4 linked regions of the Homo sapiens genome follow. The protein of the gene in region 2 interacts with the protein of the main gene of each other region in a pairwise test. Each region holds a gene or a part of one and is shown on either strand. Other genes may lie near its edges.

What was found. Proteins that work in one complex are often made in the same cells at the same time.
Region 1: the proteins of BCL2 (region 2) and BFAR interact in a two-hybrid assay, tested with the Homo sapiens proteins (one study listed by BioGRID).
Region 3: the proteins of BCL2 (region 2) and AVEN interact in a two-hybrid assay, tested with the Homo sapiens proteins (one study listed by BioGRID).
Region 4: the proteins of BCL2 (region 2) and AMBRA1 interact in binary tests that used the Homo sapiens proteins (3 or more experiments, as listed by UniProt).

Annotation. Positions count from the first base shown.
Region 1 is NC_000016.10:14,646,451-14,649,950, forward strand, and holds part of BFAR (bifunctional apoptosis regulator), read left to right. Parts: intron 1-1,937; coding exon 1,938-2,142; intron 2,143-3,353; coding exon 3,354-3,500. UniProt on the Homo sapiens protein: Membrane-bound E3 ubiquitin ligase that plays a role in several processes including apoptosis regulation or reticulum endoplasmic stress. Has anti-apoptotic activity, both for apoptosis triggered via death-receptors and via mitochondrial factors.
Region 2 is NC_000018.10:63,124,989-63,128,000, reverse strand, and holds part of BCL2 (apoptosis regulator Bcl-2), read left to right. Parts: 3' UTR 1-3,012. UniProt on the Homo sapiens protein: Suppresses apoptosis in a variety of cell systems including factor-dependent lymphohematopoietic and neural cells. Regulates cell death by controlling the mitochondrial membrane permeability. Appears to function in a feedback loop system with caspases.
Region 3 is NC_000015.10:34,004,705-34,008,204, forward strand, and holds part of AVEN (cell death regulator Aven), read right to left. Parts: intron 1-3,500. UniProt on the Homo sapiens protein: Protects against apoptosis mediated by Apaf-1.
Region 4 is NC_000011.10:46,433,524-46,437,023, forward strand, and holds part of AMBRA1 (activating molecule in BECN1-regulated autophagy protein 1), read right to left. Parts: intron 1,515-3,500; coding exon 1,326-1,514; intron 106-1,325; coding exon 1-105. UniProt on the Homo sapiens protein: Substrate-recognition component of a DCX (DDB1-CUL4-X-box) E3 ubiquitin-protein ligase complex involved in cell cycle control and autophagy.

The DNA of each region.
Region 1 (3,500 bases), on a different chromosome or scaffold from region 2:
GTGCTGGGATTACAGGCGTGAGCCACTGTGCCTGGCCAAATGCCCAGCTAAAATTTTTTTTTTTTAAGATGGAGCTTCACCCTTGTTGCCCGGGCTGGAGTGCATTGGCAAAATCTCGGCTCACTGCAACCTCCGCCTCCCAGGTTCAAGTGATTCTCCTGCCTCAGCCTCCCAAGTAGCTGGGATTACAGGCATGTGCCACCATGCCTGGCTAATTTTGTATTTTTCGTAGAGACAGAGTTTCTCCATGTTGGTCAGGCTGGTCTCATACTCCCGACCTCAGGTGATCCGCCCGCCTCAGCCTCCCAAAGTGCTGGGATTACAGGCATGAGCCCCCGCGCCCAGCCTCTTTTTAAAATATTGGAAAATTACTGATAAAACTAAAGATCCTTTTGACCCCTTATTTTCCCATCTTAGAATCCTTTCCTTTTTCCTTAGAATAATTTCAGTTATGACTTAGTTGTGCTTTTGTTCAGATTTTTTTAAATACTTTTTTTTAACTTTTTAGTAGCGATCAGGTCTCACTATGTTGCCCAGGCTGGTCTCCAACTGCTGAGCTCAAGTGAACCTCCTGCCTCAGCATCCCACAGTGCTGAGATTACAGGCGTGAGCCACTACACCCAGCCTCAGATTTTTCAAAATACTCTTTTTTGAGACAGAGTCTCGCTCTGTTGCCCAGGCTGGAGTGCAATGGTGCGATCTCAGCTCACTGCAACCTCCTCCTCCCAGGTTCAAGCGATTCTCCTGCCTCAGCCTCCCAAGTAGCTGGGATTACAGGCGCCCACCACCACACCCGGTTGATTTTTGTATTTTTAGTAGAAACAGGGTTTTACCATGTTGGCCAGGCTGGTCTGGAACTCCTGACCTTAAGTGATCTGCCCACCTCGGCCTCCCAAAGTGCTGGGATTACAGGCGTGAGCCACCACGCCCGGCTTAAAAATACTTCTAAACATACATGTGCCAGGCTGGGTGCGGTGGCTCATGCCTGTAATCCCAGTACCTTGGGAGGACCGAGGCAGGCGGATCTCATGAGGCCAGGAATTCAAGACCAGCCTAGCCAACATGACCAAAAATACAAAAATTAGCCTGGTGTAATGGCGCATGCCCATAATCCCAGCTACTCAGGAGGCTGAGACATGAGAATCACTTGAAGGACACGGAGGTTGCGGTAAGCTGAGATCATGACATTACACTCCAGCCTGGGTGACAGAGCAAGACTCTTGTCTCAAAAAAAAAAAAAAACAAGTGCCAATAGAAAATGCAAGTATTTTCTCACATCATTGATGTGCTCTCTGCATGGTTCTGCAGTTTACTATTTTAAATCAATTATGTACGTCTTAAATTTCTCCACCTTGACACATTTAGTGATCCAGCAAATGCATTTAAAATTGTGATACTTCATTGTATGAATATACCATATTTCATTTAGCCTTTTACCTAGTAGTAAATGTATATCATCAGGTTGGTGCACAAGTAATTGCAGTTTTTACCATTGAAAGTAATGGTAGGCTGGGTGCAGTGGCTCATGCCTCTAATCTTAGCACTTTGGGAGGCCCCGGTGGGCAGATTGCCTGAGCTCAGGAGTTCAATACCAGCCTGGGCAACATAGTGAAACCCTATCTCTACTAAAAATACAAAAAAAAAGTTATCCGGGTATGGTGGTGTGCACCGGTGAGCCAAGATCACGCCATTGCACTCCAGCCTGGGCGACAGAGTAAGACTCCGTCTCAAAAAAACAAAAGGAGAAAGTAATGGTAAACAACCTAATAGATTATTTCAGATTTTTTGCTTTTACCCACAGGACTATAATACATTTCTTGTCAGTTCTCCTAGGGTAGCTATATATTATTAGATGTTGACTATCAGGGCTTTTTTGGCCTCTAAACATGATATTTAGTCAAACAACTGTCTTAATTTTTTTTTTCTATTCTCCATAGGGATGCCATTGAAAAGTTATTTCCTGATGCCATTAGACTGAGATTTGAAGACATTCAGCAGAATAATGACATAGTCCAAAGTCTTGCAGCCTTTCAGAAATATGGGAATGATCAGATTCCTTTAGCTCCTAACACAGGCCGAGCGAATCAGCAGATGGGAGGGGGATTCTTTTCCGGTGTGCTCACAGCTTTAACTGGAGTGGCAGTAAGTTGATCACTGTGTTCCTCTGTGCCCCCCCACACCTCACCCCCCGACCCCTGATTTCCACTGAAGTCAGTTCTGTTGAAATCACTGAAATAATTGATGATGTGACTCCATGTAATTTACTACGTACATTGAAATCTGCTGGGTTCTATGATTTCCTCAGGAATGTTGCTTACTCAGGTAGATCAGATCATAGTACCTAGTAAATGGAGAAAGGTGGTAGAACTGGAATTCAAGACCATGTCTGCCTTGGTAATACAATCTTTTTTTGTTTTGTTTTGTTTTTGAGACGGACTCTTGCTCTGTCGCCCAGGCTGGAGTGCAGTGGTGCGATCTAGGTAAAAACTTTCTTTTAGGGTGGTGAAAATGAACTAAAACCAGCTGTGGTGATGATGACACATATTTGTGAACACATTAAAAACCGTGGATTGTGTGCACTTCAAATGTGTGAATTTTATGTGGATTACATCTCTTGCTCTTTTTTTTTTTTTTTTTTTTTTTGAGATGAAGTCTTGCCCTGTTGCCTAGGCTAGAGTGCGGTGGCATGATCTCGGCTCACTGCCACCTCCACCTCCCGAGTTCAAGTGATTCTTCTGCCTCAGCTTCCCAAGTAGCTGGGATTACAGGCATGCGCCACTACAAGAGGCTAATTTTTGTGTGATTAGTAGAGATGGGGTTTCACCATGTTGGCCAGGCTGGTCTGGAACTCCTGACCTCAAGTGATCCACCCGCCTCAGACTCCTCAAGTGCTGGGATTATAGGCGTGAGCCACCACGCCTGGACCTCCTTGGTAATACAGTCTTAAGAACCCACCAGTTTACTAACTTCCAATGTGGAGACTATTTTCTTTTAAAGTTCTGTGCATAAAAAATCTAAATGTTTTTCCAGTAGAAAAGGCACAAGTCAGTTATGTTGAGCAAGTTGATGGAGTCAAGGCACCACCTGCTCCCAGGTGCCTGAGATAAGTCCTTTTCTCGCCTCTGTGCCCTCACTGCCACGCAATCAGCAGAGAGAGGCACCCGAGGAGAGCTGTGGTCCCCAGTTCTCTGTGGCCGTGGCGTTGCCCTGCTTTTGTTGCCCTGCTTCTGTGTACGGGCTCCGCATCATTCCCTGTGAGCTCAGCCTCTTCCTTTCCCCACCTCCCACCCGCATATTTAGAAACTGGCATCTCTGCCTCTCCATGGTTTAAAGTCCCTGTCACTTTTCCCCAGGTGGTCCTGCTCGTCTATCACTGGAGCAGCAGGGAATCTGAACACGACCTCCTGGTCCACAAGGCTGTGGCCAAATGGACGGCGGAAGAAGTTGTCCTCTGGCTGGAGCAGCTGGGCCCTTGGGCATCTCTTTACAGGGAAAGGTTT
Region 2 (3,012 bases):
TTGGGAACTTCAGATGGACCTAGTACCCACTGAGATTTCCACGCCGAAGGACAGCGATGGGAAAAATGCCCTTAAATCATAGGAAAGTATTTTTTTAAGCTACCAATTGTGCCGAGAAAAGCATTTTAGCAATTTATACAATATCATCCAGTACCTTAAGCCCTGATTGTGTATATTCATATATTTTGGATACGCACCCCCCAACTCCCAATACTGGCTCTGTCTGAGTAAGAAACAGAATCCTCTGGAACTTGAGGAAGTGAACATTTCGGTGACTTCCGCATCAGGAAGGCTAGAGTTACCCAGAGCATCAGGCCGCCACAAGTGCCTGCTTTTAGGAGACCGAAGTCCGCAGAACCTGCCTGTGTCCCAGCTTGGAGGCCTGGTCCTGGAACTGAGCCGGGGCCCTCACTGGCCTCCTCCAGGGATGATCAACAGGGCAGTGTGGTCTCCGAATGTCTGGAAGCTGATGGAGCTCAGAATTCCACTGTCAAGAAAGAGCAGTAGAGGGGTGTGGCTGGGCCTGTCACCCTGGGGCCCTCCAGGTAGGCCCGTTTTCACGTGGAGCATGGGAGCCACGACCCTTCTTAAGACATGTATCACTGTAGAGGGAAGGAACAGAGGCCCTGGGCCCTTCCTATCAGAAGGACATGGTGAAGGCTGGGAACGTGAGGAGAGGCAATGGCCACGGCCCATTTTGGCTGTAGCACATGGCACGTTGGCTGTGTGGCCTTGGCCCACCTGTGAGTTTAAAGCAAGGCTTTAAATGACTTTGGAGAGGGTCACAAATCCTAAAAGAAGCATTGAAGTGAGGTGTCATGGATTAATTGACCCCTGTCTATGGAATTACATGTAAAACATTATCTTGTCACTGTAGTTTGGTTTTATTTGAAAACCTGACAAAAAAAAAGTTCCAGGTGTGGAATATGGGGGTTATCTGTACATCCTGGGGCATTAAAAAAAAAATCAATGGTGGGGAACTATAAAGAAGTAACAAAAGAAGTGACATCTTCAGCAAATAAACTAGGAAATTTTTTTTTCTTCCAGTTTAGAATCAGCCTTGAAACATTGATGGAATAACTCTGTGGCATTATTGCATTATATACCATTTATCTGTATTAACTTTGGAATGTACTCTGTTCAATGTTTAATGCTGTGGTTGATATTTCGAAAGCTGCTTTAAAAAAATACATGCATCTCAGCGTTTTTTTGTTTTTAATTGTATTTAGTTATGGCCTATACACTATTTGTGAGCAAAGGTGATCGTTTTCTGTTTGAGATTTTTATCTCTTGATTCTTCAAAAGCATTCTGAGAAGGTGAGATAAGCCCTGAGTCTCAGCTACCTAAGAAAAACCTGGATGTCACTGGCCACTGAGGAGCTTTGTTTCAACCAAGTCATGTGCATTTCCACGTCAACAGAATTGTTTATTGTGACAGTTATATCTGTTGTCCCTTTGACCTTGTTTCTTGAAGGTTTCCTCGTCCCTGGGCAATTCCGCATTTAATTCATGGTATTCAGGATTACATGCATGTTTGGTTAAACCCATGAGATTCATTCAGTTAAAAATCCAGATGGCAAATGACCAGCAGATTCAAATCTATGGTGGTTTGACCTTTAGAGAGTTGCTTTACGTGGCCTGTTTCAACACAGACCCACCCAGAGCCCTCCTGCCCTCCTTCCGCGGGGGCTTTCTCATGGCTGTCCTTCAGGGTCTTCCTGAAATGCAGTGGTGCTTACGCTCCACCAAGAAAGCAGGAAACCTGTGGTATGAAGCCAGACCTCCCCGGCGGGCCTCAGGGAACAGAATGATCAGACCTTTGAATGATTCTAATTTTTAAGCAAAATATTATTTTATGAAAGGTTTACATTGTCAAAGTGATGAATATGGAATATCCAATCCTGTGCTGCTATCCTGCCAAAATCATTTTAATGGAGTCAGTTTGCAGTATGCTCCACGTGGTAAGATCCTCCAAGCTGCTTTAGAAGTAACAATGAAGAACGTGGACGTTTTTAATATAAAGCCTGTTTTGTCTTTTGTTGTTGTTCAAACGGGATTCACAGAGTATTTGAAAAATGTATATATATTAAGAGGTCACGGGGGCTAATTGCTGGCTGGCTGCCTTTTGCTGTGGGGTTTTGTTACCTGGTTTTAATAACAGTAAATGTGCCCAGCCTCTTGGCCCCAGAACTGTACAGTATTGTGGCTGCACTTGCTCTAAGAGTAGTTGATGTTGCATTTTCCTTATTGTTAAAAACATGTTAGAAGCAATGAATGTATATAAAAGCCTCAACTAGTCATTTTTTTCTCCTCTTCTTTTTTTTCATTATATCTAATTATTTTGCAGTTGGGCAACAGAGAACCATCCCTATTTTGTATTGAAGAGGGATTCACATCTGCATCTTAACTGCTCTTTATGAATGAAAAAACAGTCCTCTGTATGTACTCCTCTTTACACTGGCCAGGGTCAGAGTTAAATAGAGTATATGCACTTTCCAAATTGGGGACAAGGGCTCTAAAAAAAGCCCCAAAAGGAGAAGAACATCTGAGAACCTCCTCGGCCCTCCCAGTCCCTCGCTGCACAAATACTCCGCAAGAGAGGCCAGAATGACAGCTGACAGGGTCTATGGCCATCGGGTCGTCTCCGAAGATTTGGCAGGGGCAGAAAACTCTGGCAGGCTTAAGATTTGGAATAAAGTCACAGAATTAAGGAAGCACCTCAATTTAGTTCAAACAAGACGCCAACATTCTCTCCACAGCTCACTTACCTCTCTGTGTTCAGATGTGGCCTTCCATTTATATGTGATCTTTGTTTTATTAGTAAATGCTTATCATCTAAAGATGTAGCTCTGGCCCAGTGGGAAAAATTAGGAAGTGATTATAAATCGAGAGGAGTTATAATAATCAAGATTAAATGTAAATAATCAGGGCAATCCCAACACATGTCTAGCTTTCACCTCCAGGATCTATTGAGTGAACAGAATTGCAAATAGTCTCTATTTGTAATTGAAC
Region 3 (3,500 bases), on a different chromosome or scaffold from region 2:
TAGACATGAAATATACTATACTTAATTGGTAATTGCTGAAGCTGGATGATGGGTACATGGAAAATCACTGTATTATTATTCTATCTACTTTTGCATGTATTTAAATTTTTTCATAATAGAATATTAAATTTTTAAAACAGAGATGCATGTAGAATCTAAAGACATGGTTCAAAGATGTGTCCCAAACATTACAAAATCCTTATCAAGAAAAAAATGAGTAAAATTATTAAAACAACTCATCTGTATAGGATGGGTTAGTGTGGACTTAAAAAAAATAATGAGCTTTTATTAACACAGAAGCAGGACATATGCACTGGAGAAAATTAGGAGGAAAAGACAAGCAAAACTAAAATATATAAAAACCCCAAATTCCCTCACCCACAGAGTACCACTAACCCCTCAGTACACATACTTCCAGATCTTTTTCTATGTATATATTTATATATACTTCTTTTTGGTCACTAGATTTTTAAAAAATATTCTTCATCTCTCCACTTAATAAATTTCATTTCATATAACATCCAGGCTAGTTCCAAATTTCCGTAACCCAAAAAATGTCCTATACAGCTGGTTTTTCCAAGACAGTATCCAATCCAGGACCAGGAATTGTATCTAATTGTTTATTCCTTAAGTCTCTTTGAATCTAGCACAGTCCCTATTTTTACGACCCTGACTTATTGACAAGGCCAGGCTAGGTCTGTTTGCTTCCTCATGGTATTATTTACAGATTTTTTTTATCTCCAATATTATCTATAAACTAATCTTAAAAATGTAAGTGCTCAATGGAGTCAAGCTAAATATTTTTGGCTAAAATACAGATGCTGCTTTGAACCCTTTGTTACAGCACATAAGATGGCTGAACAAACATAAGCACTATATATAATAACTAAGATGGACCACAGGGTTTGGATAATGAAGTCTGATCCACTCACCCACTGTACAGATATGTCTTCCCTCTTTCATCGAGGAAATTGTTTGTGCAGTGTTATTTGATCCACTGTAAATTTCTAGTTCCCCAACCATTCACTTAACAAATTTAACACTAGTCAATAATCCTCACCTGAATCAACTTTCATACACTTTCATGAAATAGACTAATTGGCCTTTCAAGATCACGTTCAGCCCACAAATATCATCATAAGCCTCCCTGTCAAAACAAAAAGATGGCGTTCTACATTATGATCTAGGGACTGCAAAGACTGCCTGAAAACTAGAGCATTCCTGCAAGTTTCTCAGAACCAAAAGATGCTGGCAGATTAAAGAGATATAATAGAATCTGCTATGTAAATAACAAATACCAGGAACATTCTACAGAAAATAGCCTTGGCCAGGCACGGTGGCTCACACCTGTAATCCCAACACTTTGGGAGGCCGAGGAGGGCAGATCACAAGGTGAGGAGATCGAGACCATCCTGGCTAACATGGTGAAACCCCATCTCTACTAAAAATACAAAAAATTAACTGGGCATGGTGGCGGGCACCTGTAGTCCCAGCTACTCAGGAGGCTGAGGCAGGAGAATGGCGTGAATCCAGGAGGCGGAGTTTGCAGTGAGTCAAGATCACGCCATTGCAATCCAGCCCGGGCAACAGAGCGAGACTCCGTCTCAAAAAAAAAAAAAACAGCCTTGTAACTGATGAGAATTTGCGGGACAGAACTAGAGCTGAAAACACCAGCAGGGTTTTGTCTGGGAAAATTCAATATTCTTTTGTTGGCCCATTGGGTGAACAGAGTTCAGAGAGGCTTCTCCAGTCAGTATAAAACCTATAAAACCTCTGAACACAGCTGTAACACATGGCAAAAATGTAAATCTGGGCAAAATAATTACCTTGATCTAAAAGAGGATTATGATCTAAAACACCTAAGGAACGATTAATGCAGTGAAACAAGCACTGAAATGGAAAGTGGGAGACCTAAACCGAATTAATGGTCCTGCCAAGTGTTTATAATAGGCTGATCCTTATGCATATGAATAACTCACCAGTCCCCAAATTAGAAGAACCACTGAACAAGGATCTCATTACCCCTACACAAATGCAGAGACAGAGTTGTCATTAGCCTTCATTCACAAGAGAGTAGTAAGAAGTAATATAATAATAAAAAAGTTTAGAAGACATTTGATGTAACTGAAAGATGTATCTTAAAAACTAGAGGTTTTATAGGTTCATTGTGCAAAGATGTGAGACAAAATAAAAATATGCAAAGCCTCAATATGGAGAAAAAGAACAGAGCAAATAAAATACTGATCAGAAAACAAGGTGAAAACTATAAAGATAAAGGCATCATTTTCATATAAATATTGTTACAAAATTAGTCTGGTGGTTTTCACTGTAATAGTTCATACCTGGACATCGGTCACTGGTTGCATTGTTCAGAGATTAACAGGAATCCATTTAGATTAATAAGCTGAAGACCTATTATATAATCAAACTACTGCCGAGCTATTATCTTGTCCAATGACACACACACACAAATCCATTTAAAACAAATTGAGATTTTCAACTAGAAAGAGTAGCTTAATGTTTTGCAGCTTTTCCAATAGGCAAGGGTCATTTTTGACCTCACCTGCTCTGCAGAATGAAAATGAAAAAATGAAATAAAAAAATGAATCAACTTTCTAATAATAAGAATTGTCATGATAACTCCATGTCATTCTCCAAACAGAAGAGCCGACGGCCCCTTACATATTCATATTAGAACTGTACAGAACATAATTCAGCCAAATTCTCTGCCACTTTCAAACCAGGCACGCTTTTCCTCTAGTGTCCATTAACATGTTCCTCATTTCCATCTGAGACCTACCCAGAGTCGCCTTTAATGTCCATATTTCTACCAACAGTATCTTCAAGACAACGTAGGCTGCTTCTATCATGCACCTTAAAATTCTTCCAGCTTTTACTCACTACACAATTCCAAAGCCACTTCCACACTTTTAGGTATTGGTTAGAGCAACACCCCATTTCCTGGTACCGTATTACTTTCCTACAGCTGCCATAACAAAGTATCACAAATTAGATGGCTTAAAACCACAGAAATGTTTTTCTCTCTCAGTTCTGGAGGCTAGAAATCTGAAATCTGGGTATTGGTAGGGTTGGCTCTTTCTGGAAGTTCTGAGGGAGAATCTATTCCATGACCTTCTCCAGCTTCTAGTGGTTGCTGGCAACCTTAGCATTCCTTCCTTTGCCATTTTCACATGGCATTTTCTCCTCTATGGGTGTGCATCTTCTCCATTCTTATGAGGACATGAGTTATACTGGATTAGGGCCTACCTTAATCAAGTAAGACCTTACTTTATCTTTGATTACATCTGCAAACAACCTATTTCCAAATAAGATCACACTCAGAGGTACTGCAGATTAGAATTTAAACCTATCAAAATTCTTGGAAGAAAAAATCACCTATCACAGGAGAAAAAAATAGTCGAAAATAATGGGTGGGCCTGGCACCATGGCTCACTTCTGTAATCCCAGCACTTTGGGAAGCCAAGGCAGAAGGATTGCTT
Region 4 (3,500 bases), on a different chromosome or scaffold from region 2:
CCACCATGTGCTCTGTGGAGGGGTGCAGCAGGATCCTTCGTGAGGCCAAGCCCACCATTACATATCTGCCCATTGGGGACAGGCTCACCGAAATGGCATTGGGACCTGAGGGCCAACAAAACAGAGAAATATTTCCTAGGCTTCTGGCCATTCCAAGGAAACAACTTTCACTCTTACTCTTGTCTTTTTCTCTAATCTTCATATTCACTTGCTCATCCTGGTGTTATCTCATAGGACTGTAGTGAGGAGTATGATGAGAAGGCATATACATACTGAGTGTAGTGTTTGACATATAGAAAGCACATAATAAGGCTGAACGCGGTGGCTCATGCCTGTAATCCCAGCACTTTGGGAGGCCGAGGTCGGGGGATCACCTGAGGTAGGGAGTTTGAGACCAGCCTGACCAACATGGAGAAACCCCATCTCTACTAAAAATACAAAGTTAGTCAGGCGTGGTTGCGCATGCCTGTAATACTAGCTACTCGGGAGGCTGAGGCAGGAGAATCGCTTGAACCCGGGAGGTAGAGGTTGCGGTAAGCTGAGATCACGCCATTACATTCCAGCCTGGCCAACAAGAGTGAAACTCCGTCTCAAAAAAAAAAAAAAAAAAAAAAGAAAGAAAGTACTTAATAAATGCTAACCGTTGTTATCAACATTTTAAAAAATTGTTAACATCCTGTAATTACTATTTTGAAACCCACCTTTTTCATTTAATACATTATGAACACTGTTCTGTAAGAGCATTTTAAGGGCCAATGGAGCAGTTCTATCACTGCACCATCATTTGTTTAGTCAACTCTTAAAAAAAAAACAAAAAACACTTAAATTCAACTCAAGGTGACACCAACAAAACACCCACCCCACCCTCCCGCAAAACAAACAAACAAACAAACAAAAAAGTCTCAAGGCAACAATTTGGCATTTTTCTGTATGGTAACACTGCTGTGAACACCCTTGTATGTAAATCTTTGTATAGTTTTCTGATTATTTCCTTAAAAGCTGGATTGCCAAAGAGCTGACACATTTTGGGAGGTTTTAAATACACAATGCCAAACTGTCTTGCAGTGCATGTGTGTGCTACAACCACCTCCTCCCTTATTCCTGACCGTCGTAACAGGGGCATGCGGTAGGACTCTAATGCTCAGATGCTTCTGCAATGTTACTAGCCAGCACTCCTGCAAAGCAATCTTTCTCTGGCCTGTGCCCCAGTGAAGGTAGGGGCAGTATGTGACCATTACTCCCACCCAAGCTGTGCCTCACCTAGCAATGACCATGCCAAGGCACCAGCGTCCCTCTGTCATTAGGTTGGGCTTCCTATCCCTTACCAAATCGCTTGGTGTAGAGCATTTCGCCCAGGTTATGGGGGGCCAGGGAGTACACTGCCAGGATGCCTTCATCAGGAAAGCCCCTCTGGCTGCTGGGGATGAAAGCTGCCAGGAGCTGGCCATCTGCAGAAATGTCACAGCTGGCATCATTGTAGATCTTGCAGTTCTGCACCAGCACATTCACGGAAGCTGCATCAGACAAAGAAAGAAAAGAGGATAAGAAACTTTGGAGTTGATACTGTAAAAATTCTGGGGCCAAGAAACTTTAGGGACTTCCTAAGGGCCTGAACCTTGTCTAGAAATGCTAAAGAATACCTTCTCATTCAAACTAAAATGTCAAATGAACAAAACACAGGAGGCAAGAAAAGTATGTCTCTTCTCCCACCTTAGCAGGAAACTATAGGATAGTCAACACCACCACAACCACCTGCTGAGTCTTAGTTCACATTTAGGAAATACCGCTTGAGAGATTAGATAAGGAAAAAGTTATTAAAAATTATTCCTAGAGAGCCATTTAACAGCTGTTATTGTCCCAGAGATCAAAACCAAGATAAATGAAAATGCAAACCCACTGGTTCCAAGAAAAAGATGATACAGGTAGAGCTTTCTTGGGGCAGGAATCCTATTCAACACCTGTTATGTGACCTTGGAGAAGAAAGTCATTTCATAAATTTGTATCTTACTTTCTCATTTAAGAGAAAGAGAACTGGAACATCTAGAGACCAGTTTTCTGGAACAGCTCCTTGCTAATACTAATCTCTAACTCTACCAAGAGAGGAAACAGAACAAAGCCCAGCTGCGGCTGGATGGCCAGGGCTCTTTTCATTTCCCACTATGCTCTATGCCAATGTCCATGACAGCCCTAGTCTGCACTTTGCAGCTCCTGAGAACAAACTGCAGGGTCAGGCAGGCAGCAGGCTCAGCCTGGTAAGGTGGCAAGATCTGAGGGTGGAGGAATGTCTGTTGGTGAGGAGCATCCACTCCACACAACAGCACCAATGAGATGTTAACTGGCACTGTGCCTATAGGCCTTGTTTCGGTTTTCATTTGAATCCCTCTGAGTCCCACCGTGTGATTCCCTGCCAGGAAGAAGTGGCTTACCCTTGATGTGAGCATAGAACAAGAGTGCCCACATCATGGGCCCGGGCAGAACAGCACAACACATTCAAACAGACCAAGCTCATCAGGGCTTTGTCTCATGTAGATATACCTCAAGCAAAAAAACTTTTCACTGTTTCTCTTATTTGAAGGAGATGTCCACTGTCAGAGGCATTGTGGTAATTTTTTAAAAGCCAAGCTCAGCTGCCCTCGCCAGAGTCCAGGTGATCTACTGCAGTAATCCAAAAAAAGTCAAGGGCAAGTTTCCCTAGGAAATTACCTCAAGGAAAACAAAACAAGGAATTGCTCTTTCAGAGGCCCCCAGGCTTATGTGATCTGATACTTAAGAGTGATTTGTAAAACTCTATTTGTTCTCCTTTCCCTGTGTGTTGCTAATGAGATGACAGTGTATATCAAAAAAGGCATTAGAATACATTGATTAGGCTATTGTGCCAACTCGGGGGCTGACACCTACAGCACCATTACACATAAAACCGAAGAGGGACCACAAGGATGGTTCTGTTTGCTAACTAATAAAATAATGATATCCAAATACTCACTGCTATCACCATTAGGCCTTTCTACTGCTCAACTCCCAACCCACCATCTGGTCTAGCCTGTAAGGCTAGATTTATCTAATTAGCACTGGGACCGTCTGCTACTTACTACTCAGGGTCCCAAGCCCTTTGCCAAAACAAAAACAAAAACAAAAACAAAAACAAAACACGGCAATATCCCTCTCCTTTTCTGGATCAACACATGAATCCAGCTGGGGATATAGAACCAAAGGAACTGGGAGAAGTTTCAGAAGTGAGACCATCTTGGTTTTCTAACTCTGAGGCTGACAATGCTCAGAAAAATAAACAGAAACTAACAATTTACACTCTAACCACCAAAAGCAGGGAGAGAAAGAAAATAAAGAAATCATAAATGTTAAGTAGTACATGAACCTAAATAGGAAAGGAGATGAGACTCTATGGGCTTTAAGACAGCTTTGAACAGTTACCATTTTATCTACATTTAATGTCTCGAAAATGTCTGTTGGGTATGTTATTAAAGTAGACTTTCCTATCTTGC